Homo sapiens: one gene and its partner. The protein of the gene in region 2 purifies or fractionates together with the protein of the main gene of each other region. This does not show direct contact. Each region holds a gene or a part of one and is shown on either strand. Other genes may lie near its edges.

Region 1 (3,147 bases), on a different chromosome or scaffold from region 2:
GACTCCCTGCTTGAGCCACTATGGGCACCGGGCTCATTACACACTTAAAAATGCACATCTGGCCACATAGAGATCCCCTTAGAACGCCCAAGGAACTGAGGCTCTTGGAAACACGTGTGTGTGGGAAACGCACAGACACGCACGCCAAAGAGCATCCAGGGCAGGCGCCATGCACGGACAAACACACATGTGTGCACAGACATGGGCCTGTCTCTGCGCTCCCCACACTCACTGTCTGGCCCCAGGACTATAGGAGGGTTGGGGGGTCCCCCTCTGGGTTGTAGCCTCCTCTGGAAGCCCCTCCGCTGGATCCAGAGCAATCCTTCTTCAGGTTCTCCTCCCACACTCTGGAATCCTCCCCCAGGCATGGATGGACAGCTGTGGGCACAGAGGCAGCCACCACTGGCCCCAAGACACTTGCAGGTCCAAGGCTGCACTGGCCAGACCTCCCCCAGATCCTGTGGTCAACCTCCCTTCCTCCATCCACTTCCCCAGCCAGAGAGGAGCCGTGCAGGACAGAGGACACAAACCATGGACCTCTGGACATCTTCCATTTTATAGAAAGGGAAATTGAGGCCAGGGGTTGGGGAGGCCTGGCAAGGAACATGGTGCATGGTAGGTGGCAGAAGGGACCTCTGTGCTCAGAGCTGTGCCTCAGGACCCATCGTTCAGATGGGAAGACTGAGGTTGGGGAGGTGTGTCTTGGGTTAGGAAGCTGGGCTCGGGGCAGGGGTCAGCGCGGGCATGGCAGGCACGGTGAATGTGAACTTCTCAGTCTGGACAAAGGCAACGCCCTTCTCATAGTAGGCAGCCTCGTTAATGAACACGGGGTACACCGTGGACTCTCCCTCATAGAGCAGGTCCTCCCCACTGAACATCTGGAAGATGGGAGCACCAGGCTGCAGTGGCTGGAAGTCTCGGTCCTGGGAGGAGAGCCAAAGGCCAAGATTGCTGGGGCCACCTCTGCCCTGGCCCCAGAGGGGGGTGACCCCAGCTTGACACCCAAAAGATGCCCCTCATTCATGGCTTTTCCCACCCATGCTTCACTTCCTTAATCCATATGACAGCAGGTCTGGTGAGATACCAGTCTGCTCTGTGTCTAGAAATGAAGACACAGGTCACCTTGGGGTGGCATGTGCCCATGTGGAAGTGGACCCTCATGGATACGGGCACAGGTATTGAAGCTGGAGTTCAAATTCTTGCTAGCTGTGTAACTGTGAGCAAGTCACTTAACCTCTGTTTCTCAGCTTTCTTGTCTGTAAAATAAGGATTACAATATCTCCTCCTATCATTCTGAAGTTTAGACTAAACAGGTTAATAGTGCTTACAGCAGTGTCTGGCACACGGTAAGTACAATATGATTCTTTATTAAATAAATTTTGGCTGGGCGCAGTGGCTCACGCCTGTAATCCCAGCACTTTGGGAGGCCAAGGCGGGTGGATCATGAGGTCAGGAGTTCAAGACCAGCCTGGCCAACATGGTGAAATTTCATCTCTACTAAAAATACAAAAATTAGCCAGGTGTGGTGGTGAGCGCCTGTAATCCCAGCTATTCGGGAGGCTGAGGCAGGAGAATCGCTTGAACTCAGGAGGCGGAGGTTGCAGTAAGCCAATATTATGCCACTGCACTCCAGCCTGGGCAACAGAGCGAGACTCTGTCTCAAATAAATAAATAAATAAATTTTAAGCCTGGGCACAGTGGCTCATAATCTCAGTGGCCTGTAATCTCAGCACTTTGGGAGGCTGAGGTGGGCAGATCACTTGAGGTCAGGAGTTCGAGACCAGCCTGGCCAACGTGGTGAAACCCTGTCTGTACTAAAAAGACAAAAATTGGCTGGGTGTGGTGGTGAGTGCCTATAATCCCAGCTACTGGGGAGGCTGAGTCAGGAGAATCGCTTGAACCCAGGAGGCAGATGTCACAGTGAGTTGAGATCGCACCACTGCACTCTAGCCTGGGCAATGAAGCAAGATTCTGTCTCAAAAAATAATAATAAAAAATAAAATAAATTTTAAAATTGTAGGAGGAGCCACCCAAATTGACTGTTATGACTGAACGTCTGCAAGGTAGCTGGGCACGGCTGGATTAAGACTGTCTAGCCCTAAACATGGACGGGATGGTGCTGCCTCCATTTGTAAGAAGGTAACTCCTCAAAATGAAACTTCAGGGCACAAAAGGCCACAAGATTGCACCAGACCCTATTCAACAATGACCCCCTGTGGCAGCAAGCAGAGCAGCAGCCAGTACGTTCTTCTCAGGCACCCAAGGGAAAGGTGTGGAAGCAGGATTGCCTAATCCTGGAACATTCAGGAAGGGAAGGCCTGCAGAGAGACATACTGCCAACATGCATGGGGATGCTCGAGGAACCAATTGAAAATCAGAAGAGAGTTTTGTATTTGCACCTCCAAGCAGGTGAATTGAGTCATGCCTGCTCCATGTCCCCTCCCTCTGCCTTTTACAGCCAGGGTAGGGTTGTCTCCATCATGCCCTCCACAGGAGCTATGGGGATCACTGTGGCCTCTTGTGCTAGGCCTGAGTGTGGGGTTCCAGGGAAGGCAGCAGGGCCAGGGGAAGTGGGATGGCGGAGCCCAGCCTCCCATCCTGCTCCTCAACCCGAGATGCTGGTGAGCTCGTGGGAGGCTTGGCTGCACCCCCTGGGGCTCAGTTTTCCTTGACAATCCTCCTCCCCAAGGCTGTGGCCCCAGAAATCACCCCCCACCACACACACACACACACACACACACACCTGCAGCTGAGGATGCACAGTGCCTGCCAGGTGCCCGGCCTCGGTGCGGGGGAAGTCCACGACGCCCACGGGTCTATAGGCTTCCATCTCAAAGGCAGGAAAGGCCGTACCTGTGTGGGAGGCTGGGTGTGTGAGCCCATCCCTCCCTCCAGGCTAGGGGACAGACTGGGCCGTGGGGGTACGTCAGGGCTAGATCCCAGCCTGCCTGTGAGCCTGGCTCCCCAACCCCTGAGCCAGACCTGCTCTTCCCCGGACCTGTTTCCCGAAAGTCCCCTGGGGTCTCACCCTGGTTGAAGAGTTCGATGAAGTCCAGAACTGTGGCCACCAGGGTCCTCATCCTTGAGAAAATGTCAGCCCGCAGCACACCCTGTGGCTGGGGGCCCAGCTCCAGACCTGGGGACCAG
Region 2 (4,414 bases):
CCTGGCTAACATGGTGAAACCCTGTCTCTACTAAAAATACAAAAAAAAAAACCATATTAGTCTGCATTTTCCATGGAGGTGTTGTTTATATCTTTGTTTTGTGAGAGCTTTTTATGCTGATACCAGATTTGTTCATAGCACTTACTGCAAACTTTTTTCCAGTTTTTTAGTTTGCCTTTTAGTTGTTTTTTTGTTTGTTTGTGAGAAATGGTCTGGTTCTGTTGCCCAGGCTGAAGTGCAGCGGTGCGATCTCAGCTCACTACAGCCTCAACCTCCTAGGCTCTGGCCATCCTCCCACCTCAGCCTCCCAAGTAACTGGGATCACAGGCACATTCACCATGCCTGGCTAATTTTTCTTTCTTTTTTGTAGAGGTGGGGTTTCCCCATGTTGCCCAGCTGGCCTGAACTCCTAGGCTCAAGCAATCTGCACACCTCATCCTGCCTCGGCCTCCGAAAGCACCGCAATTATAGGCATGAGCCACAGTGCCCAGCCTTTCTTCTTTCTTTCTTTTTTTTTTTTTTTTTTTGAGACAGAGTCTCACTCTGTGGCCCAGGCTGGAGTGCAGTGGCACGATCTCAGCTCATTGCAATCTCCACCTCCTGGGTTCACGCCATTCTCCTGCCTCAGCCTCCCGAGTAGCTGGGACTACAGGCGCACGCCACCGCACCTGGCTAATTTTTGTATTTTTAGTAGAGACGGGATTTGACTATGTCAGTCAGGCTGGTCTCGAACTCCTGACATGATCTGCCTGCCTCGGCCTCCCAAAGTGCTGGGATTACAGGTGTGAGCCACCGTGCCTGGCCGCCTTCCTTCATTTTTATGGTTAGGAAGTCCTTCCTGTACAAAAAAAGAACAAAATTCAGGATTTGCTTAAAATGTAAACATAACACCCTGCGCCACATGAAGGGCTGGAGGGAGAGTTCGCACAGCCCTGCAGGCCGGGAAGCCCCTGACTCGAGCCAAGGCTCTGCAGCTGCAAGGCCTCCTGTCAGAGGAGGGGGCCTGGGGACTCCCTTAGCCTCACCCTGAGACTGGGGCTGGTGGCCTCCTGGGGGCAGCAAGAGCCCAGGCCCTTTCTGGAGGGACAGTCCTGTTTTCTGAGCTCTGAAGTTAATGGGACTTCCTCCCGGACCACCTGCCTCACCGCAACTCCTCCCCTGCCTGGCACCTGTCTGGGCCTCAGTGTCTCACCTGTGCAATGTGGGCCCTCACAGGGTTAGCGAGGTGGCCTGGCCCAGGAGGTGCCCACAATGCTGGCCCCTCACAATGGTTGCCCGGTGACAGGACTCCCCTCAGGGAAGGGAGCTGGATGCCGGGAGGGACTGGAGCCAGCAAGGCCAGAGTGAAAGCAAAATGACAACTACTCAGAAACACGATCTCTTCACGCCGGAGCCTCACTATGTCCCTGGGTGAGAGCCGGGAGCTCTGGAGGTGGCTGGGGCCAGGGCTGCAGGAGGGGGAGAATGGCTGGGGCCTGAGGCATGGAGGCCAGCTGTGAGGGGCCCAGAGCTGGACCCCAGGAAACTGAAGGCCACACCACGGGGCACTGCAGTCTGTGGGCTGGGGAGCCCTGGGACAGGGGAAGCTCAGGGATGGGGTTGCCAGGGGCCCAGGCCTCACCCTCCCTGCTGGTGTGCAGCTGCGAACTCGATACCTGGTGGCCAGCACGTCTGTCGAGCAGAAACTGGGTCAGCCAGCAGCCGGCAGAGGCCGGCTAGTAAGTGCCCGACGCCCACTCCAGAGAGGACTCCACACTTCATTTCATTTTATTTATTTATTTTTTGAGACAGAGTTTCGCTCTTATTACCCAGGCTGGAATGCAATGGTGCAATCTTGGCTTACCGCAACCTCTGCCTCCCAGGTTCAAGCGATTCTCCTGTCTCAGCTTCCGGAGTAGCTGGGATTACAGGCATCTGCCACCACACCTGGCTAATTTTGTATTTTTAGTAGGGACGAGGTTTCTTTATGTTGGTCAGGCTGGTCTCGAACTCCTGACCTCAAGTGATCTGCCCACCTCGGCCTCCCAAAGTGCTGGGATGACAGGCTTAAGCCACCACGCCCGGCCAGGACTCCACACTTTAAAGACAAGGCAAGCAAACGCCAGGCTGCCTCACTAGATATCCCCCCAAACAAAAAATAAAAGTAACCCCTCTACGGAACGTGTGTGTGTGTGCACCTACATACACACACGCTACATGCAAAGGGGAAAGGCTGGGAAGAAACCACACCTGCCTCTGAACAGCTACGTCTGGGGAAGGGGCAGGTGAAGCTGAGGCTGGAAGTTGCTCGGCTTTTTTTTTTCTTTTGAGACGGAGTCTCGCTCTGTTGCCCAGGCTGGAGTGCAGTGGGGCGATCTTGGCTCACTGCAAGCTCCGCCTCCTGGGTTCACGCCATTCTCCTGCCTCAGCCTCCCGAGCAGCTGGGACTACAGGGCCCGCCACCAATGCCTGGATAACTTTTTGCATTTTTAATAGAGACAGGGTTTCACCATGTTGGCCAGGATGGTCTTGATCTCCTGACCTCGTGATCCGCCCGCCTCAGCCTCCCAAAGTGCTGGGATGACAGGCGTGAGCCACCGCGCCCGGCCCTTTGGCAGTTTTTAAGACGAAGGTAGTTCTCACTCCTTGAAAGATCACATAGACCCTGAGGCGCTGAACCGCCTGTGACCACCTGCACCATGCCCCTCGAGGTTGAATGAGGGCCCGGAAAAGCCCAGCCCTCCACCTGCCTCCCAGTTCTCTTCCCGTGCAGGAGGCTACTGGCCTCCTGGGGTGGCACAGGTGCAGGCCAAGCCCACGCAACACCCTCCTGGTGGGCCCTGCGTGTGTCCAAGGGTCCGTCCCTCGCCTATGTCCTGGCCCACACGTCTTGTGCCTGTACTTGCTTTGCCAGGGCAGAGCACCCCTGATTTGCTGGCAGTTGGAATGAGGGGTGGGAGAGGGTTGGAGGGGCTGGTACAAGGCAGGCGGCCATCTGCTGTGGTGCTGACGTGTTCCCAGCATGTGGTGTGTGCCGCCTGTTCAGGCTGAGAGAGCTCTAGAAGGCAAGTGCCACTGCAGCCCCATTTACAGGTGAGCAGAGGGCAGGCGAGCTGCCACAGGCCAACCTGCTGCTAAGTGGCCAGCAGGCTGAATCCACATCTGGCTTGAAGGGGCCCTGCCCAGTGCTGGGGCTGCCCTTGAGACCTGCCCTGCCTTCTTCTCTTCCCTCCACAGCTATGCCGGCTTCTTTCCGCAGCTGCGCTACCAGGTGGGGAACACCTATGGGCGTACCACGGGGCAGCTGCTCACAGACCCCAGTGTGCAGAAGAGCCCCTGCTCTGTGCTGTCCCCCATGTCCAAACCCAAGTTCATTGAGGACTTCAGCCAGTCCAAGCCCCCGAGGGTTCCCTGCCAAGACCTGACGGAGCCCTACATCCCCCACTACACCAGTGAGCTGCCAGTCCCCAGCCCTGCACCCTCCTGTGCCCGCCTGCCTGTCCCGGCACTCACAGGCTGCCCTGTTGGTACAGGTCTGAAGCCCTCTAAGAACTTTGAGATTCTGGGCCAGCTCCCACCCTTGGAGGTGGACGCCCAGGAGCCGCCAGGGGTAGAGAACATACCCAGACAGATTCTGCTGCCTGCAGGCTTCACGCCCGACACCCCGCACCCTCCGTGCCCACCAGGCAGGAAGGGAGACTCCAGAGACTTGGGACACCCAGTATACGGGGAAGAGGCCTGGAAGAGCGCCACTCCTGTTTGCGAGGCCCCCAGGCAGCACCAGGCAGCCAGGGGATGCACCAGTGCCAAGCCCATTCCGCTCAGCCCCAGGTGGGAGCTGCACCGTGACCTCCGCTTCCTCCCCGCTCCAGCTGTACCACTGCCAGAGGGATGAGTACCCACCCCCCGCCCGCCGCCAGCAGGAGACGCTAGATGTGGGCAGCTTCCAGCGGCTGCCGCAGCTGGACCACCCTAACCTAATCCAACGCAAGGCCATCTCAGGTGGGTGTGGGCCTGGGCTGGGCTGGAGAAGGCCGCCCCTCCCCACAAGGTTCTTGCAGTGTGAGAGCCCCTGAGGAGGCTGCCACAGGGGCCCACTTTTCCTGCTCCAGAACAGGCTAGCGGCCTGGGGGGACCTCCTCTGCCTCCCAGCTGCTTCCAGGAGCCCAGCTTTTCCCAAGACGAGGCGGTGCCTTGCCTGCCTGTTCCCATTTGGCCACATCAGACAGTCGCCAACGTTCAGGGAACGAAAGGGAGCCTTGCCTGGCTTCCCTGACACGTCTGAGGGCAGGTGGGTGTGCCCAGGGGAAGGCTAAGGGGGCTTGGGGTAGCCCGTACATCTGCCTACCCCCAGGCTATGCTGGCTTCATTCCCCGTTTCACCTGGGTAATGGGGTTGAATTACCGAGACGGCGTCATGCAAGCCATGGACGAAT

Evidence for each region.
Region 1: the proteins of CIMIP2A (region 2) and ACY3 purify together in Homo sapiens (affinity purification with mass spectrometry; one large-scale study listed by BioGRID and IntAct). This does not show direct contact.

The regions. Positions count from the first base shown.
Region 1 is NC_000011.10:67,642,017-67,645,163, forward strand, and holds the end of ACY3 (N-acyl-aromatic-L-amino acid amidohydrolase (carboxylate-forming)), read right to left. Parts: intron 3,137-3,147; coding exon 3,029-3,136; intron 2,854-3,028; coding exon 2,744-2,853; intron 924-2,743; coding exon 708-923; 3' UTR 539-707; downstream 1-538. UniProt on the Homo sapiens protein: Plays an important role in deacetylating mercapturic acids in kidney proximal tubules. Also acts on N-acetyl-aromatic amino acids.
Region 2 is NC_000009.12:137,244,656-137,249,069, reverse strand, and holds the start of CIMIP2A (ciliary microtubule inner protein 2A), read left to right. Parts: upstream 1-1,354; coding exon 1,355-1,410; intron 1,411-3,216; coding exon 3,217-3,431; intron 3,432-3,512; coding exon 3,513-3,763; intron 3,764-3,851; coding exon 3,852-3,981; intron 3,982-4,091; coding exon of another isoform or gene 4,092-4,255; exon of another isoform or gene 4,256-4,260; intron 4,261-4,333; coding exon 4,334-4,414. UniProt on the Homo sapiens protein: Microtubule inner protein (MIP) part of the dynein-decorated doublet microtubules (DMTs) in flagellum axoneme. Binds to the intra-tubulin interfaces.